7 linked regions of the Homo sapiens genome follow. The protein of the gene in region 1 purifies or fractionates together with the protein of each later gene. This does not show direct contact. Each region holds a gene or a part of one and is shown on either strand. Other genes may lie near its edges. The genes, in order: CDH5, TBL2, VANGL2, PTPRU, CAPN15, EXOG and ST7.

Evidence for each region.
Region 2: the proteins of CDH5 (region 1) and TBL2 purify together in Homo sapiens (affinity purification with mass spectrometry; 2 studies listed by BioGRID and IntAct, with this or other methods). This does not show direct contact.
Region 3: the proteins of CDH5 (region 1) and VANGL2 purify together in Homo sapiens (affinity purification with mass spectrometry; 2 studies listed by BioGRID and IntAct, with this or other methods). This does not show direct contact.
Region 4: the proteins of CDH5 (region 1) and PTPRU purify together in Homo sapiens (affinity purification with mass spectrometry; 2 studies listed by BioGRID and IntAct, with this or other methods). This does not show direct contact.
Region 5: the proteins of CDH5 (region 1) and CAPN15 purify together in Homo sapiens (affinity purification with mass spectrometry; 2 studies listed by BioGRID and IntAct, with this or other methods). This does not show direct contact.
Region 6: the proteins of CDH5 (region 1) and EXOG purify together in Homo sapiens (affinity purification with mass spectrometry; 2 studies listed by BioGRID and IntAct, with this or other methods). This does not show direct contact.
Region 7: the proteins of CDH5 (region 1) and ST7 purify together in Homo sapiens (affinity purification with mass spectrometry; 2 studies listed by BioGRID and IntAct, with this or other methods). This does not show direct contact.

Annotation. Positions count from the first base shown.
Region 1 is NC_000016.10:66,373,191-66,376,690, reverse strand, and holds part of CDH5 (cadherin-5 preproprotein), read right to left. Parts: exon of another isoform or gene 3,474-3,500; intron 1,091-3,473; exon of another isoform or gene 890-1,090; intron 1-889. UniProt on the Homo sapiens protein: Cadherins are calcium-dependent cell adhesion proteins. They preferentially interact with themselves in a homophilic manner in connecting cells; cadherins may thus contribute to the sorting of heterogeneous cell types.
Region 2 is NC_000007.14:73,575,780-73,579,715, reverse strand, and holds the start of TBL2 (transducin beta-like protein 2), read left to right. Parts: upstream 1-1,136; 5' UTR 1,137-1,166; coding exon 1,167-1,296; exon of another isoform or gene 1,297-1,404; coding exon of another isoform or gene 1,405-1,426; exon of another isoform or gene 1,427-1,743; intron 1,744-3,014; exon of another isoform or gene 3,015-3,144; coding exon of another isoform or gene 3,145-3,175; intron 3,176-3,936.
Region 3 is NC_000001.11:160,421,064-160,424,563, reverse strand, and holds part of VANGL2 (vang-like protein 2), read right to left. Parts: coding exon 3,377-3,500; intron 513-3,376; coding exon 281-512; intron 1-280. UniProt on the Homo sapiens protein: Involved in the control of early morphogenesis and patterning of both axial midline structures and the development of neural plate. Plays a role in the regulation of planar cell polarity, particularly in the orientation of stereociliary bundles in the cochlea.
Region 4 is NC_000001.11:29,257,022-29,260,521, reverse strand, and holds part of PTPRU (receptor-type tyrosine-protein phosphatase U isoform 1 precursor), read right to left. Parts: intron 2,018-3,500; coding exon 1,746-2,017; intron 1,262-1,745; coding exon 1,180-1,261; intron 1,074-1,179; coding exon 958-1,073; intron 653-957; coding exon 478-652; intron 1-477.
Region 5 is NC_000016.10:551,712-555,136, reverse strand, and holds the end of CAPN15 (calpain-15), read right to left. Parts: intron 3,087-3,425; coding exon 2,925-3,086; intron 2,837-2,924; coding exon 2,607-2,836; intron 2,533-2,606; coding exon 2,366-2,532; intron 2,275-2,365; coding exon 2,096-2,274; intron 1,823-2,095; coding exon of another isoform or gene 1,799-1,822; coding exon 1,621-1,798; 3' UTR 501-1,620; downstream 1-500.
Region 6 is NC_000003.12:38,506,340-38,509,839, forward strand, and holds part of EXOG (nuclease EXOG, mitochondrial isoform 1 precursor), read left to right. Parts: intron 1-514; coding exon 515-629; intron 630-3,500. UniProt on the Homo sapiens protein: Endo/exonuclease with nicking activity towards supercoiled DNA, a preference for single-stranded DNA and 5'-3' exonuclease activity.
Region 7 is NC_000007.14:116,956,501-116,960,000, forward strand, and holds part of ST7 (suppressor of tumorigenicity 7 protein), read left to right. Parts: exon of another isoform or gene 1-223; intron 224-2,652; exon of another isoform or gene 2,653-3,317; intron 3,318-3,500. UniProt on the Homo sapiens protein: May act as a tumor suppressor.

The sequences.
Region 1 (3,500 bases):
GTTTCAGCCCACATCTGAGTGCCAGCCACAGGACTGACAGGAGAGGGAAGGGAATTCCAGGCAGAAGTGCTGTTGCTGGTCTCTGGGTACCTCAACATCCGAGCCCACCTCTGTGCAGGCAGTGGTTGGTTTCCTTAAAGGAGCCCACCTCTCTGAAGCAGTCCCTTCATAAAATCTCTTCAATTGGCCTCCCAGGGTTCGCTCTGTTTCCTGCTGGGAACCCCATCTCTAATACAGTGAGCGGGAATGTGGTTTTCTCTTTCCTGGGGCCTATTGGGATGGGTTAGTGATCCCTAGGGCTGACCGCAGCCAGCGGTCAGATGGATAAATAGAGTCATGTGCTGCAAAATGACTGTTTGGTCAACAATGGACTGCACATATGAATGTGGTCCCCTAAGGTTTTAATGGAGCTAAAAATTCCTCTGCCCTAGTAACATTGCAGCCATTGTGACGTCACAGCACAAGCCATTACTCGTGTGTTTGGGGTGATGGTAGTGTAGACCAACTTTATAAAAAATGTTATATTAGGTTGGTGCAAAAGTAATTGTGTTTTATTTATTTATTTATTTATTTATTTATTATTTTTTCCTTTGAGACAGAGTTTTGTTCTGGAGTGCAGCGGTGTGATCTCAGCTCACTGCAACCTCCGCCTCCCAGGTTCAAGTCATTCTCCTGGCTCAGCCTCCCAAGTAGCTGGGATTACAGGCGCGTGACACCACGCCCGGCCAATTTTTTTTTGTATTTTTAGTAGAGACGGGGTTTCACCTTGTTGGCCAGGTTGGTCTCAAACTCCTGACCTCAGGCGATCCGCCGCGTCAGCCTCCCAAAGTGCTGGGATTGCAGGCGTGAGCCACCGTAGCCGGTGGCTTTTTTTTTTTTTAGACGGCAACAACAGCAATTACTTTTGCACTACCCTAATAGTAAACTAATTTCTTATTGACGAAAGAAAAATATTTTTAAGTAAATTTAGTGAAGCTAAGTGTACGGTGTTTATTAAGTCTACAGTAGGATACAGTGACGTCCTAGGCCACTCACCACTCACTCCCTGACTCACCCAGACCAATTACTAGTCCTGGAAGCTCCACTCATGGTATGTACCATAGAGAGGTGTACCATTTTTTATTTTTTTATTTTTATTTTTATTTTTTACTTTTTTATTTTTTTGAGATTGAGTCTCCCTCTGTCGCCCAGGCTGGAGTGTGGTGTGAATGCGGCTCACTGCAGCCTCAAACTCCTGGGCTCAAGCAATCCTCCCACCTCAGCCCCACAAGGAGGTATGTGCCAGCACATCTGGCTAATTTTTAAATTTTTTTGAAGAGATAGTTGGGGTGGAGGGGTTTGACTATATCGCCCAAGCTGGTCTTGAACTCCTGCCTCAAGTGATCCTCCTGCATTGGCCTCCCAAAGTGCTGGGATTACAGGCTCCTTTTTTATCTTTTACATGGGAATTTTATTGTATCTTGTCTGTATTTAGATATGTTTAGATACATCAATACTTGCTGTCGTGTTAAAATTGGCTACAGCATTCAGTACAGTACCATGCTGCACAGGTATGGAGCCTAAGAGCAATAGACTGTACCGTACAGCCTAGGTGTGCGGCAGGCTATACGATCCAGATTTCTTTGTGTAAGCACACTCTCTGATGTTTGCACAACAGCGAAATCACCTGAACTCGTTTTTCAGAATGTGTCCCAGTCATTAAGATGCACATCACACACCGGGGCCTGTCGTGGGGTGGGGGGAGAGGGGAGGGATAGCATTAGGAGATACACCTAATGTAAATGACGAGTTAATGGGTGCAGCACACCAACATGGCACATGTGTACATATGTAACAAACCTGCACGTTGTGCACATGTACCCTAGAACTTAAAGTATACTAATAAAAAATAAATAAATAAAATTAAACAAAGAGAAAATTTCAGGGTGAAGACGGTCAAAACTAACACATTCAGAATAAAATGAGGTTCCTTCCTTGATTTGAAAAAAAAAAAAAAAAAGATGCACGGCTGTACCTACACCAGACTTCAGCAAAGCAGAGTCCACCAGTCACAGGCTCGGACCACGTGGCTCCTGGGGGGACATTAACTCCTCAGTGGGCTTTGTCTGGCCCCACATAACAAAGCGTTCTCTGAAGGTGCAGAAAAGCCCCTTGGATTCTGTTGTGTGTCCAGCAGGGGCCCTGCTGCTAGCTCTGGAGAGAAGTCCCTTGGAGCACATGGGCCACCCTCAAGCTCCTTCCCTCTGACAGGGCTGAGACTGGCTCTCGCAGAGTCACCTCACAGCAGCTGTGTGTCATTTGCCAGGGCAGAGGGAGGTCTGGGTGCTCAGCTCTCATCAGTCAGCTGTTGGTGAGGGGCAGGACCTTGGGTTGGGGGCATTTGGGAGCTTGGGATCACATAATCCCATTTGCACCCCCATGCCAGAGCCTTGAGCACCCTCCCGAGACAGCTCTTTCTCGCCTGGGACGGTGGAGGAGGGCTGACATCCCTGAGCACTCCCCCGAGGCACACGTTATTTTATTTAAACCTTGCAACAACCCTTCTAGGTAGTTGTCTGCGTTCCCATTTTGCAGGTAAAGAAATGGGGGCTCAGAGAGGTAGCGTAAGTCATCTCAGTTCACATAGCCGGAGGCAGTGGAGCCAGGATTTGAACTTAGGCTGTCTTTCCCCCAAATTAGTGCTTTTTGCGTCATGCCACTCTCTCTATCTCTGTGGTGACATTCACATGTAATAATAATGAACTATTCTCGGTGCTTGGTCTTCATCCATGCCAGCGCATTTAATTTTCACACTATCCCCAGGATGTAAGACTTATCATTCCCATTTCACAGATTAGGAAACTGAGGCTCAGAGACAAACAACTCATGAATGGTTGTCATCAGATCGATCTTTTTCTAAATCCTAGGCTCCTTCTATACTCAATCTCAGAGACACCTGTGGGACCTTCCCATCTGAAAAGCCACATTTATTTGTGTCTTTTGCCCTTTAGGTTAGAAATTTGGCCACTAACTTTGGGAAACTGTGGCGGGTGGATCACTTGAGGTCAGGAGTTCGAGACCAGCCTGGGAAACATGGTGAAATCCTGTCTCTACTAAAAAATACAAAAATTAGCCTGGCATGGTGGCGCATGCCTATAGTCCCAGCTACTCGGGAGGCTGAGGCACGAGAATCGCTTGAACCTGGGAGGCGGGGGTTGCAGTGAGTTGAGATCCTGCCACTGCACTCCAGCCTGGGCAACAGGTGACAGAGCAAGACTTCGTCTCAAAAAAAAAAAAAAAAAAATTGGCTAACCAAAATGGGGGCTGCAGGGAAGGGTCTTGTTGGACAGATGTTCCTTCCCATCATGATGCAGAGGAAACCGGGCCAGTCAGATCTACTGCAGCCACAGCTGAAAACTGAATTTCTCTTGGCTGCAGCCTCTGGAGATGTGGTCATAGCCCTTTTTTCATTTTAGCCTGTTTCCTTTCGGCAGGTAAGAGTCACATCTCTCGGTCGTTCT
Region 2 (3,936 bases), on another chromosome or scaffold:
AAACACAAAAAGTAGCAGGGCATGGTGGCACGCGCCTGTAATCCCAGCTACTCTGGAGGCTGAGGCAGGAGAATCTCTTGCACCCGGGAGACGGAGGTTGCAGTGAGCCGAGACGCGTCACTGCACTCCAACCTGGGCAACCGTCTCAAAAGTAAATACATAAATAAATAAATAAAATAAGTTTTCTATTAAAAATTCTCCCTTTTAACTTTCGACTTGCCAGGCCAGCCCCAAATCCAGGCCCTCGTCACCTCCCTCTCGGATCCTTGAAGCCACTGCCGGTTTTCTGATTTTGGTCTTTTCACACAAAGGTCCATCCAGGGAATCCTCAGACACAGCTTTTGCCCCACCTCTCCCTGTAATGAGCAGCTTGTTGGATGGAGCCAGCGCTCAACGTCCCCCAGACCTTTCCGCCCCTCTAGCCATTTCCCACATCCCAGCTTCTCAGGTCTTTGCGGAGGCTGTTCCACTCCACGCGCCTGGCCTACTCTTCCTTAAAAGCCCATCTGAACTTTCGCTGATGCTGAGTTTCCTATCCGTTAAATGGTAATAATAATCCCCGCCCCGCTTCCTTGAAAGGATCCAGTGTGGTGATGGCTGGAATAATGCCTTTAATAAACAATTATCAGTGAGTTCTTCAGGAGGAGGCGTGAGCAGTGATCGCAAATCCCGCCTTCCTCCGCCCTCCGCAGCCCTGCAATCTCAACCGCCAGGCGACCCGCCCCTCGAAACGCACCAAGGGTCGAGCCCTGCCCCTCGAGATGTTCTACTTCCAGGCCCCGCCCCTCGAGACACTCTACCTCCGGGTTCTGCCCCTCGAGACGCTCTAACAACCCAGCCCCGCCCCTCGAGACGCGCTAACTCCAGACTCTGCCTCTCGAGGCGCTCTAATAACTAGGCTCGGCGGGTGGAGATGCTCTAACTCCAGGCCCCGCCCCTCGAGCGCCACAACAGCCGGGCCCCACCCCTTGAGGTGCTTTAACGGCCAGGCCCCGCCCTGAAGGCGTTGTAACAACCAGGCTCCGCCCCCAGGCGCTCTAACGGCCAGGCCCAGCCGCTTGAGGCTCCCCAACGGCCAGGCCGCGCCCCCGCGTGCGTGCGCGGCCCGGCAGAGCCGTGCGGGCGCCCGCGTACTCACTAGCTGAGGTGGCAGTGGTTCCACCAACATGGAGCTCTCGCAGATGTCGGAGCTCATGGGGCTGTCGGTGTTGCTTGGGCTGCTGGCCCTGATGGCGACGGCGGCGGTAGCGCGGGGGTGGCTGCGCGCGGGGGAGGAGAGGAGCGGCCGGCCCGCCTGTAAGTGGGGCCGGGTCGGGTGGGGGCGGCCCGCGGTGTCCCGGCTCCCGGCCTCCTCGTGGTCCGACCTGCGGTTTGGGCCCGCGGCTGGTGGGGCCCGGCGACTCCATGGGCCTCAGTTTCTCCTCTGGTAACGTGAGCTTCGCTTCCAGAGACGGGGACCCGCCTTGCCGGGTTAGGCGCACCTCCTGGGGCGGGACTGGCTCCAACCTGGGCCCCTTACTGCGGCTTTCTCTGTGGCCGAGGCCAGGCCGTCCCCGGGGTGGCCAGGAGAGCACCGTAAACTCTTCAGCCTGCTCCGTGGCCGCGATCTCGGAAAAAGCACCAATTCTGTGATGTGCAGCAGCATTTACTGGGCATCTATGACCCTGTGATAGGCTTTGGGGTCTTTTTCTGTAAGGAGTCCAGTAAAGGAGAAGTACATCTGTATTATGAACACCTAAATATGTAAGTGAAAAACACGGTGAAATAAGTTTCACTGAGGCCAGGCGAAGTGGCTCACGCCTGTATTCCCAGCACTTTGGGAGGCCGAGGCAGGGAGATCGCTTGAGCCCAGGAGTTTGGGACCAGCCTGAGCAACATAGCAAGACCCCATCTCTACGCAAAATTAGCTGGGTGTGGTTGTGCACGCCCCTGTAGTCCCAGCTCCATGGGAGGCCGAGGCAGGAGGGTGTCGTGAGTCCAGGAATTCAAGGCTGCAGTGAGTTGTGATAGATCGCGCCACTGTACTTCAGCCTGGGTGACGGCAAGAGCCTGTCTCTGAAAAGTTTCATAGAAGAGGTTAGTACTAGAAATGGGAAACACCAGAGAGTCAGTGGGCAGCCCTGCTCTTTTTATTTATTTTTCAGACAGAGTTTCGCTCTTCTTGCCCAGGCTGGAGTGCAGTGGCACAATCTTGGCTCGTTGCAACTTCCGCCTGCCAGGTTCAAGCGATTCTTCTGCCTCTGCCTCCCGAGTAGCTGGGACTACAGGCACACACCACCACGCCTGGCTAATTTTTGTATATTTAGTAGACGGGGTTTCGCCACGTTGGTCAGGCTGGTCTCGAACGCCTGATCTCAGGTGATCCACTCGTCCTGGCCTCCAAAAGTGCTGAGATTACAGGCGTGAACCACTGTGCCCGGCCAGCCCTGCATTTTTTTTTTTTTTTTTTTTGCAGGGGGACGGAGTTTTGCTCTGTCGCCCAATCTGGAGTCTAGTGGCGGGATCTCGGCTCACTGCAAGCTCCGCCTCTGGGTTCACGCCATTCTCCTGCCTCAGCCTCCTGAGTAGCTGGGACTACAGGCGTCCGACACCACACCCGGCTAATTTTTTGTATTTTTTGAGTAGAGACGGGGTTTCACTGTGTTAGCCAGGATGGTCTCAATCTCCTAACCTCTTGTGATCCACCTGCCTCGGCCTCCCAAAGTGCTGGGATTACAGGCGTGAGCCACCCTGCCTGGCCGAGTCCTGTTCTTTTATGGGGGAGGTGGTTGTTAGGGAAATCATTACTGAGAATAGGGGGCACATGAGGTAGTGTGGGGTCTCAAAGGATGGTTCTAGAAGAAGAGTTTGCCAGAAGGCCAAGGAAAAAAGACATTCCTGCCAATGGCAATACCCGAGAAGGCAAGGAGTCCCCAAACAGCATTTGGTATGACTTAAGTGTGAGGAGGGGGGCTTGTTAGACATGCCTGGAGAGAAGGAAGCAGAGGACAGATTGTGGCTGTGTTTGTTTGCAGGGCCCAGGAGCTTTTTTCCTGTTGGAATTGGGGAGCATCTGCAGTCATTTACCACATGCCAGCTTTGTGACTCAATTAAGTATCTTTTACAAAAGTGACTGGCTCCACTCCCCCGCACAGGACTCAACAGATGTTGACTTCTCATCCCCGAGTTCTTTCAGGTACTGGAGTGCAGTGGTGCGATCTTGGCTTACTGCAACCTCTACCTCCTGGGTTCAAGTGATTCTCCTGCCTCAGCCTCCTGAGTAGCTGGGATTACAGGCGCCTGCCACCACGCCCGGCTAATTTTTGTATTTTTAGTAGAGACGGGGTTTCACCATGTTGGCCAGACTGGTGGAACTCCTGGGCATCAAGATGATCCAGCTGCCGGGCCGGGCATGGTGACTCACGCCTGTAATCCCAGCACTTTGGGAGGCCGAAGCGGGCAGGTCACAAGGTCAGGAGATCGAGACTGAGGCAACAGAGCGAGACTCTGTATCAAACAAAAAAAAAAAATGATCCAGCAGCTGCCTCAGCCTCCCAAAGCGCTGGGATTACAGGCATGAGCCACCGCACCCGGCCTCCATAGAGCCTTTAATGCTTGTGTTCGGTACTTTTGCTTGTCACTTTGTAGATATCTCATCCAATTCAATCTCCCTTATTTTTATTTATTTATTTATTTATTTATTTTGAGACAGAATCTCACTCTGTCGCCTAGGCTGGAATACAGTGGCACGATCACTGCATTTGAACTCCTGGGCTCAAGCAATTTTCCCTCCTCAGCCTCCGAATAGCTGGGACCACAGGCGCACACCACCATGCCCAGCTAATTAAAGTTTTCTGTAGAGATGGGGTGTCACTATGTTACCCAGGCTGGTCTCGAACTCCTGAGCTCAAGCAATCCTCCCATCTCAGCCTACCAAAATGCTGGGATCACAGGCAT
Region 3 (3,500 bases), on another chromosome or scaffold:
ATCTGGTAATTCCGGAGCCCTCATAGAGATGAGAAATAAGTCTCAGCCATCCCCAAAATGGTCCTGAGGACTCCCTTCTCCTCATCTACCTAAAGACTTCACCCCACACAGATGGGGCAGGTGGAATAGGAATGAGAGAGAAGATTATAAAAAGGAGGTGGTGAGGAGAGAGAAATGAGGTGGACAGTGAGGAAAGTAGTGAGAGAATAAGGGAAAATGAAGGTGGGAAAGAAGAGGAGCTGGGGAAGGAGGAAGGATGCTGGCAGCAGGGCAGGCCTACCTTGGGCGTCATGTCATGCGTGATGCAGAATTCAAGGTGCTGCAGGATGCTCTCCATGGTGTGGTAGGGCTGCTGCTTGGTGGTCCGAAGGTACTTCTGCATGGCACGGGCCATGGATGCAAAGATGGCTTGGGCTGCCTCCCGGGGGTCCATCACCTCCCTGGGGTTTTTCTGCTCCTCTTCCTGCAGCCGCTTAATGTGAGTGAAGGCCTCCTCCACCGCCACTACAAGCCTAGGGGACAGGAGGGGACTGGGCCAGATGCCCACCTCTCTTTCCCCCACCCCACCCCTCTCCCCTAGCTCCAACACTCCAGCAGCCTGAATGAGGTCAGGCCTTTGTGCTCACCCAAAGTAATACAAAGCCAGAGGCAATAGTGCCTTTCTGCCACTGGGAACAGTAAACAGCCACAGAGTTCAGTGGGCCCAGCCCAGGGACTCAGAGGGCAAACCTAGTGTCAAACCCAGAGAGACAACTAGGAACTATGCTATAGGAAAGACAAAGCATTCCACCAAACTTTAAGGAAAACCTTCTTAAATAAGACCCCCAAATCATACTTCATTGGCTCAACAATTAATAGATATGATTACATCAAAATGACAGATTTCTGTTCAACCATGACAGCATGGGCAACATTAACTGACATCTGATGGAGCTGGGGAAAATATACACATCTAAAACCAACAAGGGATTCAGATCTAGAACATGCAAAGAATTTGCTACAATTTCTATCAAGAAGAAAAAGACAGGAAACCTAGAGAAAAAAGGGCAAAGGAGGTGAACAGAAAATTCACAAGAGGACTGAAAGGCTAAAAGATATACGAAGTAGTTACTGGCTAGCAATTAGAGAGATGCAAATGAAAATGTTAGTAAAATATTACTTTTCCATCAAAATGGAAAAAAGAAAGAAGGTAACTATAAACCAAATATTGGATAGGATGTTGGGAGTATTCCATGAACTACTATGCAGCAAAAAGATGCAACAAACTAGATGTACAGACAACTTGGATGAATCTCAAAAACACAGTGTTAAGGAGGAAGCAGGAAAAAAAAATCCATTTACATTAAAAGCATATAGATGGCCGGGTGTGGTGGCTCATGCCTATAATCCCAGCACTTTGGGAGGGTGAGACAGGTGGATCACCTGAGGTCAGGAGTTCAAGACCAGCCTGGCCAACATGGCAAAACCCCATCTTTACTAAAAATACAAAAATTAGCTGGGCATGCTGGTGTGCATCTGTAATCCCAGCTACTGGGGAGGCTGAGGCAGGAAAATTACTTGAACCCAGGAGGCGGAGGTTGCAGTGAGCTGAGATCATGCCACTGCACTCCAGCCTGGGGGACAGAGCAAGACTCCATCTCAATAAAAAAAAAAAAAAAAGCATACATACAGACACACACACCAACACCAACAAAGATCACTACACTAACACTAACTTTGCACAAGGATACATATAGCTTTTAAGGAAGTCAAACACACTCAACAGGATGCCTAAAATGTGGCGCTGGAGTGAAAGTGGGAACTGGAGGAAAAGAAGAAACAGAATAAAGAACCATGAAAAACTCTATAATGACAATATGTTAGAAGCTGAAAAGAGCAATTAATGCAATTATCTGCACTTCAAGTCCAAAAACCAAAATAAAAGCCCCCTGGCCTAAGAGCAGGACCAGCCTGAAGTGACAGGACAAAGAAAGAAAGTGAGGCCTTCTATGCAGAACCCAGGAACCTGAGTCATTTCAGATGGGACTCTGGGTATATAGGTGTGGATCTGTGTATGTCTATCATTTCTTCCTTTATTCTCTTGCTTCCCCTACATTTCTCAGTAAATTCCCTTTGAAAAGATCCTTTTATCTCAGGTAAACAAAGGAAAAAGTTTGCTCCTGGTTAAAAGCAAGGTAATGGGGAAAGGAAAGAGTCCTCTATGTGCCAAAAATGGTGGTGGCAGTACAGGAGATTGGATGACCCTGGTCAGGGCAGAAGATAAAGGGGTAGGGACATCACTGGTTTCCTTCCCAAGTCTCAGGCCATTTCCAAGACAATTAGAGACAGGTTGGAATGCCACAGAAATGGAGTTGGTGATCTTTGTTCTACTACAGGGGATGCCAGCCTCAAATAGGAACAAGGTAAGGGCTACCTCTTGCCCTTGAAGCCTGGAGTTCATGTGGGAGATGGGGCGGAGGCCAGGTGCGTGGTCAAGTCCTGAGGCACTCTGCTCCTCCCTCAGGGAACTCCCGACAGACCAAGATGGAACCCGGCAGAGTAGGCACCAAGTAAGATTCTTCAGGGTTGACTAAATTCACTTAATAATATGAATAGGGAAAGGGAGAAGCTAGGATGGCATTTAAGAATTTACCAAAATATAGGCAATAAAACGTCATTTTTTGAAGGCAACAAAAGCACCATCTGGTGAGTCCTCTCAAGATCTACTGGCAGGCAGGCTAGTCTAGCCTGAGTCCATGCTGTTGCAGGTAAAGCTCACATCCCTTTATTGGGTCCCTACCCCACTGTGGCAGGCAGAATTCAAAGATACCCTCCACTTCTACCAGACTCCCATCCCCTCATTAGACAACAATCTTGGTACATTTTGCAGATGTAATTAATGTGCCAAGTCAGTGGCCTTAAAAGAAGACTGTCCTTTAGGGCCTGATCTCATCACATGAGCTCTTTAAAATCAGCATTATCTCCAGCTGGTGGCAGAGGTCAGAGACCTGTTTCTGCTGGAAAAAAAAGTGCACTACCATCATGTAAACTGCCTATGGGGCTATGTGACAAGGCACTGAATTCTCCCCATAATAATGAGCTTGAAAGAGAAAGCATAGGCTCAGATGAGAGTCCTCTTGATTTCAGCCTGTGAGGCCTGAGCACAGCCTCCAGCCAGCCTGCACCTGACCCATGGAACTGGGAGATAATAAATGTGTGCTGTTTCACAGCTGCTAAGTTTATGGTAATCTGTTAGGGCAGCAACGGAAAACAAGCACACACCCCCAACTCATGTCATCATTGCCCTATATTTCCAGCAGTTACAGAAGTTCCTTGGTCTTCCTCTCCCCATTCACCCAACAAGCACCTCCTCTCCTCTTCTCCCCCAGGGACCCACCTGGCCCTCCTCTTGCGCACCCTTCGCTCATGCTCAGCCTCCTCATAGTAGTACTCATTGTGACTGTTGTCCCGCCTCCGAGCTGCCGCTGCAATCACAGCCCGAGACTGGCCAGTGGAGTTGT
Region 4 (3,500 bases), on another chromosome or scaffold:
TCTCCGTCCTCCTAGGGCCTCTCACGCTGCTACCAAGCCCTCAACCAGACCCGCTCTCCTACCCCCACTAAATCCCGGGCCCTAAGGGGCACCTGGCTCCAAAGGCTGACCCCGCCCTCGCCCATCAGCCCACAACCCCTCTCTCAGGCCCCTCCTAATCCCCCACATCCTCGCCTCCTGGAGCGGACCGCAGGCCAGCTAGGATCAACACAGAAGTCACACAGCCAGAACCCCACCCCTCTTTAGGCTCTCACCTTGACCCTGTCCGTCCCCCTCGAAGCCAGCCCCGACCCCTAGATCAGATCTCATCCCGGCTGGGCCACTGCCATTTCCACAGGCCCATCTTCAGATAGCGCCCCAGCGACACCCTGCCGGCCCCACCCCCCACGGCCACGCCCCCGGGCAGAGCCCGCCCCCGTCGCCGGCCCCGCCCCTCGAGGGTGAGGTCCCGGCGCTCCCCGGCGTCCACCAGCTGACCCTTGACGATGAGCTCCGCGAAGTTAGAGACGCCCGCGCCGCGCGGGGCCTGGGACACACAGCGGTACAGGTCCTGCTCGGCGCGGCTCACGGCAGCCAGCGGGAAAGTGGCCAGGAAGCGCCGGTGGCTGATGTGCCGCACGCCCGCCGCCGGCACCAGCGCCCCGCTCTGCCGCTGCAGGGAAGAGAGTGAGGGGGTCAGGGGCGCCTCGGAGCGAGGGGTCCCGATCTCGCTCTGACCCGGGCCCCATTTAGCCGTCCCTACTACACCGCGCGGACATAGGTTCCTGGAGCCGCGCTCTAACCTGGGGGAATGGGGGACCCAAGAAAGCGCAGAGCAGAGCTAGGGGAGGGCCGGGACGCTGTGCGCAGTGCTGGAGTATGAAGCAGGGACTCAGCAATCTGGGGGGAGTCAGGGCCAGAAGCAGCCACCAACCCCCTCCCACCCCGCCCCCAGCCAAGATCACCGCTCCCGCTCACTTGCAAGAGGAAGCGTTCGGCCTCGGCCGCTCTGCCCGCGGCCATGCACTGGAACGACGCGTTCTGGCCCGCGTTGACCTCCACGTCGCCCAGGCGGGAGAAGTGTGGGGCCTTTGCTGCGGGGTTAGAGCTGCATCGTGAGCTGGGCCTGCACCCCCTGCAGGCAGGAGCCGCGGCCGCCCACACCCCTTACCCCTGCGCCCCCAGTGGGCTGGGACTCACCGCAGGGGTAGCTGAGAAGCAGGATGTCATCTAGGCCCATGTAGCCCCTGCGGTCTGGGGAGATGAGGGCCTCAAACAGCACCTGGGGGAGGCGGGAGGGCCCCTATCATACTGATATTCCTCCAGCCTTGCCTGGGGAGGTGCCCACTTTCAGCTCGGCCTCAGCCTCCTCTGCCTCAACTAGCAGAGGTCAGCCCAGCTCACACTGACCCTCCCTCCCAAGCCAGCTAGTTGGGGGTGGGGTCCCAGCGCCCATAGTGAACAAGGTGGAGGCCAGTTTCCACCCAAATCCTGGACAGTTACCCTCAAGCAGCCAGACAGAGTTTCCAGGTCAGCACTGTTCCAACTCACCCTTGACCTGGGCCAGAGGCTATTCCTAGGAACAATGACCTCAGATGCTGAACCCAGACTGGCCCCAGACTGACCCCTGGCCTTGACCACAGGTTGCCTCTGATACTGAATGCAGACACATTCTAACTTCAGCCACTCATCTACTCCAACCTCAATTTGACATCCATCTGCCCCACCTCCAGGCACAGGCTGACCGCTGACTGAACCCAGCCCACCTGATATTCATTGGGCCAGAAAGTGCTGACAGCCAGCTCAGCCTGGTGCCACTGACGGCCGTGGGATCCAGTCATATTCCACACAGCACTGCCCAGGGGGCCCCCATTAACGCGCACGTAGACGCCCAGGGTGCCCGGGCTGTGCCCGTCCCGGCTGTACAGGAAGTAGCTGAACTGCACACAGTGGGTATCATTCTCGCTCAGGCTCTGGAAGATGACATGGGCTCGCTGGCCTGGGGCATGCTGGGAAGTGTTGACCATCAAGTAGGAGCCTGGAAAGAGAGGAGGAAGAGGCAGGAGATGAGGAGACCTCAGGGGAGGGACAGGGCCAGGGCAAGGGGAGCACTGAGGAGGACTCCAGGCAACGGGACCCACCAGGAGTCAGGGATTCTGAGTTCTGGCCCCAGCTCCACCTCCCTGGGTGAGTCCCTTCACTTCCTAGCATCTGTTTCCCACAGGAGACCTGGAGCAGTAAAAAACACACAAACCTGACTTTGTCAAAACCATTTAAAGGCTGGGCGCGGTGGCTCACGCCTATAATCCCAACACTTTGAGAGGCTGAGGTGGGTGAATCACCTGAGGTCAGCAGTTCGAGACCAGCCTGACCAATATGGTAAAACCCTGTCTCTACTAAAAAAACAAAAATTAGCAGGGTGTGGTAGCATGTGCCTGTAGTCCCAGCTACTCGGGAGGCTGAAACAGGAGAATTGCTTGAACCTGGGAGGCAGAGGTTGCAGTGAGCCAAGATCACGCCACTGCACTCCAGCCTGGGTGACAGAGCAAGACTCGGTCTCAAAAAGAAAAAAAAAATTATGGCTCCTTACAATCTACAGGTCACAATGCCCATGCCCAGCCTAACCACAGCTTTCCCCATGTTCTGAGCTATCCCTGGAGACAGGGACTAGGTCATTCATCCCTGGAGTCAAGAGCTTGGCACACAACAGTCCCTCAAAGGCCACCCCTTCCAAAGCCCTCCCTCTGCCTCCCACCCTGGGCTTCTCTCCTGCCCCCTGGGTCATTACTAAAGTGCCTGTGTGTCTCCCACCAGGCTGTGAGGCCTCAGGACGCAAGCTGAATGAATATGTAGAACAGAGATTGAATGAAAGGATTCCAACTTCCCTTCCAGCCCCCATCCCTGAGTCTAAATTCCTGGAATACAAATCCCCTTGACTTCCAACCTGGAGAAAGGCAGCCTGTCCCTTCCCCAGAGACCCAGGCTGGGTACTGGTGGAGTAGAAGTGGACTAGGCTGGCTCAGGACCTGGCGGGGGGATTTGGGCTTCCCAAAGGGCACCCGAAACCACCCAGCGCTGCCTCCTCCCGGGCTTGGCTGCCAGCCAACACAAGCTCACTCAGATCCCCGCTCCAGGAGGGCTCCCCAGGGACTCTGCTGGAGGCGATCTCATTCATCTCTGTAAGCTAGAAGCCCTATGGAGGCGGCTCCTGGATCAGTCCCAGCAGGGCAGTAGTAAACTAAACTCAAGTCCCCATCCCCACCCAGGAAGGGGCACTTCTCAACCCCCAACACACTCCCTCTTGGCCCACTCATGCTACTTCTCTCTCCTCTCCCTGCGAGCAGCTGTGTGCATCTTTCTCCCTCTTCCAATCTGACACTTTGTTCTTTCCTCCTCCTCCTGCTCCCTCTGCCTCCTCCTCGGCTCACTACATCCCTCCCCTTCTCTTTCATTTACTCCCTTTGTCCCTGTCGCTCTTCCTTCTCCTCTCTCCATCTCTGAGTGTGAATCTCCCTCCTTTC
Region 5 (3,425 bases), about 66 Mb from region 1:
CCCAGCCCCCAACTCCGTCCAGGGAGACAGCAGAGCCTCCGAGCGGGCGCTTTGCTCAGCAGCACCCGTGTGGGGGCAGAGGCCACCCTGGGACGAGGCTGGGAGGGGACAGGAAACTTTTCTCCCCACGCGCCCCCTCACTCCATCTGCTCCTGCCGGGTGACTGATGGGTTCAGACAGAGCCCCCCGTGCGGATGCCTCGCTGGAAGAAGCTGCATGCGCTGCTGTCCCGTCTGCCCAGTCCTTCCCGGCCCTGGGGCTGCGGCCGCAGGGTCTGACCCCTGCCCCCGCCCAGTCACTCCGTCCTTCCTGGCTGCGTCCATTTGGCAGGGCCGGCTGCCCCTTACAAGCTTGTGAGTCACCCCACCACGGCCATCTCCAGGGGCCCCCACCCGTCCGCCTGCCCGGGATGCCTGGGCAGGGCCTACCCCTCAGACCTGCAACCTCCCCGCCCTTCCACAGGGCCCTGCGCGGGGCAACAGCAGGAGGAGGAGGCGTGATTACAAAACAAAACGCTTTTATTTGGTCCATTGGAGCCTGAGTCGGAAGCCACTGTGGAGAATCCTATGGTAAAGGAACGGGACTGACAATTGATAAAATAGTCTCTGTGTCACAAGAGCTGGCCGTATTTACAGGGTTAAAAATATTCACAGCTCAGAGTACAGGGAGGCCAAAGGGGAGTGGGAATGTTTCTCCAGGTGAAAAGGCCCCGGAAGCCCCTGCCGGGGTAGGAGGGGGAGTGGGGGCGAGGCCGGCCCGCTGCCGGGAGTGAGGGGCCAGGAGGGCACGCAGAAAGCTGGGCTCAGACGTCCACACACTCCTGGGCTTCTGTGGGGAGGTGGGAGCGGCTGAGCCCTGCCCGTGCCCACGATGTGCTGGGGTCCCTCTCTGGCAGGGCCGGGCCGAGGGACAGGGTTGGCTGAGGAGCCTGCTGGTCCCAGTGTGCCCGGCAGCAGTGAGCGGTGCTGAGAACTGGTGCCCACCCACAGCGGGCCTGGCGCCCGCCTGCACCCAGTCATGGCTTCGATCCTGGCGGGCACTCCAGGATTTGCATAGTGTCGCTGGGGGGCTGGCCAAGGGCCCCTTCTTCTGAGACAGGCACCGCCCCGGGACTCGCCGCTCCACACCAGGGCTCCAGGGACCCCGCCTGCCCTGTGGGGGACAGGGACCCGGGCTCTGGGGGAAAACTGACCTTATGCCCCGTGAGGGGTGGTCCCTGATCCCACCCCAGGGTCTTGGCCTCTGACACCCAGATTTGGTTTTGCGGACAGAGCTCCTGGCTGCCTAGCCCGCAGGAGACCCTGAGCCCACAGGGAGGGGCAGCCTGGCCTCGGCCCCCGTCGGGTGTTGGGGCTGGCAGGTGAGCGGGGCTGGTTCACAGCCCGCCTGGTTCGAGGTATTCTGCGTGGCGGCCAGGAGGCCTGGCCAGGCGGACTGTGGGGTTCAGGGAGGGGAAGGAGGGGGGCGGGGGGCCCATGGGAAGCTGAGCCCTGGGCTGGCAGCTCCCTGGGCGGGGTCCTGAGATTCTGGCTCAAGCGTCCTCTGTCGGGGTCTCCCTCATAAAGTGCGTGTGGGGGTGGGGGGTCCGTCTGTGCACAGCCCCTGCCCCAGGCATGGTGGTCACAGCGGTCGGGGCCCATGCAGACCGGCGACCTCTGGCGTGAGTGGGGGGCTGTGGGTCCCCTTGGAGGCTGTCCAGTCACTGAGGAAGGCCTGGGCTGCCTTGCGATGTGCCAGGCGGTGGGTGATAGAGAAGCCGGCGTTGCCCTCTAGCTGGGACAAGATCACCAGGACCTGCCTGGGGGAGGGGACCGGTGAGGACCTGTGGAGGGCAGGGTGGGGATGGGGGCAGGGCTGTGCCCACCTGTACAGGGGCAGGAGCAGGAGTGGGGTGACAAACACCCGTACAGGGGTGGGGGCAGGGGTATGAGCACACCTCTGCAGGGGTGGGGGGGGCATGGGTTGGGTGTGGGTGCAGCGGGGTAGGGGAGGGGGCACCTGTGCAGGGGTGGGGGGGCACGAGTTGGGTGTGGGTGCAGCGGGGTAGGGGAGGGGGCACCTGTGCAGGGGTGGGGGGGCAGGGGCGGGGGCGCACCTGTGCAGGGGTGGCACGCTATCCTGGGTACGCAGGCTGCCGCGTGTGGACACCACGTTGAAGCTGTCGGTGCAGTCACACTGCACGTGCAGGTAGGCCTTGGGGTGTCGGTTCTCCACCACCACGATGAGCCCCGCCCAACCGTGTGTCAGGTAGTAGCAGGTCATGCCCTCACGGCCCTGGGCACAGGAATGGCAGTTGTGGGGCAGGGGAGGTGCTGGGGCATACTCCCCCTGCCCCACGCCACCCTCCCCCGGGACCCCCACCCACCTCGTGCCGCTCTCCGCGGCTCTCGGTGAGCAGGATGATGGCGTCGGCCAGCGTGGTCGGCTGGGCTTCCACGGGCTCCACCATGACCAGCCTCGAGCTGTACACAGCCAGCACGTGGCCCGGCGGCTCTGGGGAGGCTCTCGGGACCCCTGCCGAGGGGCTGGAGGCTACAAGGACGGGCGTGTGAACCGCAGCCCTCCCCGTGGGCCTGGGGCATGAGCCTGGGGTAGGGGCCACGTACCCTGGGGGGCAGGGGTGCCCGGCAGGGGCGGCCCCCAGTGGTTGAAGGCGCAGCACACCACAGCGTACTCGCCAGGCTCCAGCATGACGTCGCAGCTGACGAACTTCTTGACCGCGCGCTTACTGTGGGCCAGGAGGCGGCCCAGGCTGAGGTGGCCGCCGCTGCCGAACGTGGCCCGGAACACCAGGATGCACAGGTCCAGCAGGTGGCTGTCCACGGCGTCCGAGCGCCTGCGCCAGACACCACGGGCCAGGGTCACGCGTGGTCACGGCCGCCAGCCTAGCCCAGCCCAGCCCGATGGGGCCCCGCAGCACCCACCTGCTGCCCTCCTGGAAGAGCGCGAACTCCAGCGAGGCCCGCTCCAGCACCGTGAGCGCTGTTACCCCCACGGGCGCGCTGGCCGAGCTGGGAAAGCAGCCCTGCACCCGCGCCTCCTGCCAGTCCGAGTGCACCTTACAGATGTCCACGGAGTCGAAGTACCTGCAGGTGGCGGGAGGACGGGGCCCTGAGCCTACCACGGCCCACACCTCCGTGGCTCAGCGCCTACCGCAACCACAGGCCGGTGACCCCAGCAGGTGCCAGCTGCTCCGTCACCGTCCTCTTGCAGCCCGGCCCCCGGGGGCCCATCCCTGAGGCCTATAATAGGAAGCCCTCCAGGGCCGGCTCTTCAGGGCGCTGGAATCTGCTGACCTGGGTGGACCTGAATTCTGAGGTTGGCACCTTGGAGCTGAAGCTCCAGGTCCCATTTGGGCCACGAACAAGCCGCCCCACCCCAGGTCAGCAGGAGGGACAGGCTTGTTCTCCAGAGAAGGACTCGGC
Region 6 (3,500 bases), on another chromosome or scaffold:
TAACCCTATTAAAAATGTTAGTTTTACATATGATGACGAGTCTTTAAAATAAATTCATTCAGTAATTCTGGTCCTTGAAATTTATCCTAAGGAATTGATACAACGTTGCATTATATAAGAAATGTTAACATAAGCCCAATTGTCCTGCAAGAGGAATGGTTAAATAAAGTATATCATCTTGTTGGAATGATACATAATTCTTGAAAGCTGGTTGGGAACTATGGCATAAAAAAAGTTTTAAGTTCATGAAATTTGAATTCCAGAATGTACTCTGAGCGCACATAAAGAAAAATGTAGATAGTTTTGTTAGTGTATGTGATTTTTAAGTTTTTTCTGTGCAGTAAGCAAACTGGGAAAATAATTGTTTATATGCTTATAATGTTTTGTGCCATGTTCTTGTTTAATTTCTCAAATGCAGTTTTTCTTGGTATCTTTCATAGGAATTGATATGATTTGCTGCTGTCTTACATGTATATATGTGAGAATATCATACATTTTTTTATTTGTTTTTCAGAATAGAAATGTACTGTCGAGAGCTGACAGAAAGGTTTGAAGATGTTTGGGTGGTATCTGGGCCTTTGACCTTACCTCAGACTAGAGGCGATGGAAAGAAAATAGTTAGTTACCAGGTAAGGATGTTTAATAGTCAGGTTTATGTTATCTGTATGAGATTATAATCTCACTTTCCATTCTGCTTTTTATTTTTATTTTTATCATTCAAAAAAAATTTTGCATTCTACTTTTTAATTTCACTTATTCAACAATATTTATTGAACACCTATTAGGAATGATAGGCATAGGGAATATAGTGATGGATAAAAGCAACTATTGACTTCAAGGAACTCACGGTTTAGAGTGGAAAACAGATGTTAACAATTAATTACATTAAAGTGTGACATGCTGTAATAGAGGTAAACACACACAGTGTGGTCTTGTGAAAGGACTGATGGGCTCTACTCATATGAGTCAGGAACGCTTAAAAGAGGAAGTGATATTGAGCTATACCTTGACAGATAAGAGTCAGGAGTGGACCCTGAGGATTCCAGAGGATGGAGCAGGATGAGCACAGGACATTTGTGGTCAACATCAGGGTTTTGAGATTTATATATCATTCATAAAAATTGGAGCTTATGGTACAAAACAGTGTGGGTGGCTCAAGGGGTATGAAGAGTTCCATAACAACAGGTGGACGGGTGAGATAATATGCGACTTTCTATTCTATGATGAAGACTTGGGTTTTAATTTTTAGGCACTAAGAAGTCATAGATTTGTTTTAAGCGTGGGAGAAATATGATATTTGGGTTTTATAAAGAGTATTTTGGCAGCAGCGTGTAAAGAGATAGGTGGGAAAAGGGAGCATTTGAAGAAGAGATTAGAGGCAAGGAGATGAGTTAGGACATACAAGCAGTTGGAGTGAGGAATAATAGAGGAACACAGGAAAGAGTAACCATGAATAAATAACTTGTTTGAGTGAGGAAGAGGGAGAAGTTCCAGGATAACAACTAGATTGCAGACCAGGCTCAGTGGCTCATGCCTGTAATCCCAGCACTTTGGGAGGCCGAGGCAGGCGATCACGAGGTCAGGAGTTCGAGACCAGCCTGGCCAATATGGTGAAACCCCGTCTCTGCTAAAAATACAAAAATTATCTGGGTGTGGTGGCGTGTGCCTGTAGTCCCAGCTACTTGGGAGTCTGAGGCAGAAGAATCGCTTGAACCCAGGAGGCGGAGGTTGCACTGAGCCGAGATCGCACCACTGCACTCCAGCCTGGGCGACAGAGCAAGACTCCACCTCGAAAAAAATAAAAATAAAAATAAAATAAAAACAACCAGATTACAGTGTTACAGTGAGTTGAATAAATGGGAAGAAAAGCTTTTCTTCTAGAAGCTTCTTTTTTTTAATATGCAAGATATGTGAGCACTTTTATAGACTGAAAGAGAGATTAAAGATAGGAGAGTGTAATTAGTGGTGTGAGAGCTTCAGACATCTAATGTTGCTGGGAAATTCTTAGCTAGCCTTTCATATTGGCAATTTACAAAGTGGTATACCTGAAGAGCAGGTGTTCTTAGAAAAAGTTTAACATTTAATCTTATCATGCAGAAATATCCTGAGGATTCTTCCAAGAGGGTGGCTGAAATGTTATACTATACTGTGAGGCTTACAGAGGGCAGGGAACAGGTGGAGTGAAGCAGAAGAGGTGGTAGAGTGAGTAAAAAGAAGCACTGAAGGACTTGCTAATAAGGCCAAAGAGGAGGGGAGGGAACACCTAGCTCAGCTCTGGAAATAAAGTAGATATTTAATAAATGCTGGTTAGGTAAATGATTACTTAAGTCTGTGATAAAATTTAATAACCTGAGGAACAGATTGAGGAACCACCCCCCCCCCAAAAAAAAACCAAAACTTTTAGAGTATATTCTGTCCATTTGACTTGCTTATTATCAGCCTGTCTAGATCAGATGTGCAGTAATGTCCAAGCATCCAAGGATTTGTATAGGTCCATATGAATAGCCCACTTTCTCTTTTTCCACACAAAATTATGACCCAACTACTTCTTTTTGTTAAGTGGAAATGATAGAGTAGTTGTTTTCAAGGATTTGTACATCCTTGGAAAATTCCAGTAGATATGGGAGTGAAGGAAGTCAAAGGAATTAGTATTTTAAAATTAATTCATTTAATATCTCTCCTCCCATATTAATTTCTCTCCTCTGATTAACTTGCTAATTTAATTTTAGTATATTTTATAGTCTTAGGAGAAAAAAAGGCTTAAAGCCCCCTGTATTATTTTTCAAATATTAATTATTCTTGGTCTTTGTTAAATCCTGTTTATTTTATGTCAGAAAAGAGGCTCTTCTAGCTTTGACTTGTATATCTTAAATGGTTAAATTACAGTTTTATTTGTGCTTTGTTTTTATAAAATTGAAAAATTTATATCACTAGCCTACTGTGTAGTAGAACAAAAATTTGTACAATGTTTAAAACGAAAAATTAACCAATAATTACAAGCATTTCACTACATAGATTTTTGTGTGGCTATTTCTGTAAAATATGTGTTGCCCAAATGCCGTAGTGGAAAATGTATTGTTTTTCTTAAGTTGGATATAATTTTTAAAAATAGAACTGATAAAAATATATCTTCTAGTTGTTTCTGCTGAAAAGGCCCAGAAGAATTGGTATGTCATTAGCAATGAACACATCTTGAGACCCAGATATTTGTTTCTAAAAAGCATCTCCTGAAAAGACTCAGCGCTTAGAGAAATGACTGATTTAAGGGGTGGTACAGGGAGAGTACAAAATGGAACATCATATATCAGAAAGCCAAGGAAGTGCTCAGACAAATGGTGGGGATATGTCAGAAGGACATGTGAATCAGCTTGAAGGAGCTCCCACTTACTGTATCTGGTGCTATTGAATATCAAAATAAAATGGATTATAAACCTATTGAATTAAATAAGAATACATACTCAATAAATATGTAAATACATAGGGTGTAAAGAAAAGCTTCT
Region 7 (3,500 bases), on another chromosome or scaffold:
GAGTTGCAGATGGCGCAGGCCTCCCTTCCTCCTCAAGGAAGCCAAAGACACCATCACAATCAGGCAGCCAGGAGCCAGGGCTTCCATAGGCCCAGCTCTGTACCTGTAGGGGGATGGAATCTGCTAAAAGTGTTCTGGAGTCATTCTTGGATATCTGCTTGGTATCTTCTCAATATCTTGACCATCTGTGACAATTTTAATCCTCATTTGATCATATTTTATGGTAAATGAGCTTAACTCGATTTTTTTTTAATTTAGATGCCTCCTAATGTACTATAACAGGTGCTATGATAAGAAAGATGAATGAGTTTGTAAAACCCAGGGTAAATAAGGAGTTTACTACAAGAATACAACTTCCCATATGCAAGATGGGGCTGGGCAAGGCTGTGAGAGCTTCTCTTGAATTGAGCCTAAGAGGATGAGGAGAATTCCATGATTGAGGACTCAGAGGTGGACCTCCCAAACAAAGGGACAAAGTTGTGAAAGTGCAGGTCAGATTCAGAGAAGAGCTAATCGTGGAATTTAATTTAAAATAATAAAAGAAAAGGACTTTGATGAACAACCATACCGTTTTTAGCTCTTACATCGTGTAGTTTTCCAAGTAAAAATGCTTTGAATGCTGTTTTTGAGGTATACTACTTCCCTACTCCCACCAGCTTGGCTCGTGTGACCTTCGTTGCATTGAGCCAGTGCCATTTAGGGTAGGGATATAGTTCAAAGAATTCCACAGTATTCTCTTAGACCATACAGAGAAACCTTAACATTGGCAATCACATCTTGTAATGAAAATGAATTTTAAAAAAGAAAGGGGAGAAAACGAACATAATAGGAATAGTACATAGTGGCTAGCTTTGATAATAGTTTTTTTTTTTGTTTGTTTTTTAAGAGAGTCTTAGTATGTTACCTAGGTTGGGCTTGAACTCCTGGGCTTAAGGGATCCTCCCACCTCAGCCTCCCTAGTAGCGAGTACTACAGGTGTGTGCCACCATGCCCAGCTGCTGGTAACTGATTTTTGAGGCTCTGCTCTTGATTTGGATACAATAGTGTTAAAATAGTTTTATGATTTACTGAAAATAGAATGAAATTTTAACAAGGTTTTTAAAAGACCCCAAATAATATTACTTGTCAGTTTTCAAGTGAATTAATATCATAAAGCAATACTTTTCCAAAGGGCAGAAAATTAATTGTAGATTGGCACAGTCATGCAGGATATTATTAAAATAGGTGAGTCTTAAAAAATAGTACCATAACTTATACAGTGGTGTTGATGGCACTTTCTCATCTACCCTATGTTATAAAGTTTTTTGCTGCTGAATTTAAACACCTTTTCCTAAAACGGGCAACTTTGCTGTTTTTGCAAAAAGCAGCATAAGTGATTTTCCAATTCTTTTTCTATTTGCTGAAAAGCAAGTTTTCAAAGATCTTTGAAATCCGTTTTCATTCCTTTTGGAAAACAAATGTAATAGCCTGATCTAGGCTTAAAGTTATTTATTTACTTATGTTTGAGACAAGGTTTCACTCTGTCACCCAGGCTGGAGTGCAGTGGTGCAGTCACAGCTCACTGCAGCCTCAACCTGCAGGCTCAAGCAATCCTCCTGTCTCAGCCTGCCACCTCAGTCTTAGTAGCTGAGACTACAGGTGCACACCACAGTGCGTGGCTAATTTTTTTTTTTTTTTTTTTTTTTTGTAGAGACAGGGTCCCCTGTGTTCTTGAACTCCTGGGCTCAAGCAGTCCTACTGCCTCCACCTCCCAAAGTGCTGGGATTCCAGGTGTGAGCCACCGTGCCTGGTCAAGTTATTTAGAAGACTTTTTTTTGTGTTAATTAAGCTCATGAATACAGATGTAAAACTCTTATATTGTTGACGTGATATAGAACTTAGGCTGCAGCTCAGTTTTGGCATTTTTTCATGTTGAGAATTTTTGCTCTAAATTTACTTAACATTTAGATTTTAATTTACTTAAAATTTACATAAAATTGGATTTCCCTTCTAGAGGGTCTGGTTGCAGTTTACATAGGTCTTTTGCCCCTGTTGTGCCTGTTGTCTAAAATGTTCTTCCCTATCTGTAAATCCCACCCATCTATCAAGGACCAGCTGGCATGCTGCCTTCTGATCCTTTCAGCTGCAGAAAAGACAGGCTTACCTTGGAGATATTGCAAGTTTGGTTCCCGGCCACTGCAATAAAGTGAGTCCCATGAAATTTTTGGTTTCCCAGTGCATATAAAAGTTATAGTCACACTATATTGTATTATATTAAGAGTGCAGTAGCATTATATCTAAAAGACCAATGTATATACCTTAATTTAAAAATCCTTTATTGCTAAAAAAAAAAATGCTATCTGAGCCTCAGGAAGTCATAATCTTTTTGCTGGTAGAGAGTCTTGCCTTGATGTTTATGGCTGCTGACTGATCAGGGTGCTGGTTGTTAAAGGTTGGGGTAGCTGTGGCAATTTCTTCAAATAAGACAACCGTAAAGTTTGCCACATGGATTGGTTTTCCTTTCCAGAGAAAGATTTCTCTGTATCATGTGATGCTGTCTGATAGCATTTTACCCACAGTAGGACTTTCAGAATTGGAGTCAATTTTATCACCCTGCCACGGCTTTATCAATGAAGTTTATGTAATATTCTAAATCCTTTGTTGTCATTTCAGCAATGTTCACAGCATCTTCACCAGGAGTAGATTCTATCTCAAAACACTTTCTTTGCTCATCAAAAGAAACAGCTCTTTATCCGTTCAAGTTTTACAAGGAATTACAACAATTCAGTCACATCTTAAAGCTTCAGTTCTAATTCTAGTTATTTTGCTGTTTATGGCATGCCTGCAGTTACTTTATCTTATATGAATTATGGTATATGTGTGTGATATATGTGGGTCAGTGTTTGTGTATATATGCATCTTTTTTTGTATATGTATGTTTTATTACTTCTTCTAGATTCTAGTTCTTCATCTTCCAGTGTTAATTCCTTGTACAAAGTAGGTCCTTATCATTCACTGGATGAATGAATATCCAAGTTACGGTGTATTTAGTGAGCTGGGATTGGAACAATACAATTGATCAAATGCATTACTGAGTATGTGCCCCATCTAAGTTTGCAGCTTTAGATTGTGGTCAGAGGCTGTTACAAGATCTTATATATTCTATGATGGGCCATATGCATCTAAAGCATGGTGGTTCAGTTTATGAATATATAAAAGGACAATTTTTTGATTAATGTCAGCTTTGAGTTTAGAATGTATCCCAGACATCTTAGTTGCCCTTAATTATTTTTGGAGATATTTTTCTCAGCCATTAATAAAGCAATCCGAATGATGCATTTTTCTCTGAGCTTGAGTTTTTGTATATGTAAAATAATGGCTTTACATTCATTAAGTTTCCTTCTAGCTCTGGGATTCTGTGTCTTACGATGAATTTCATTGAGTGCAAAGTGTAGCACCAAGATAATACATGGACTTAATGAGTATACATGTTTTTTACAGTTTGGACTCTTAATACTTAG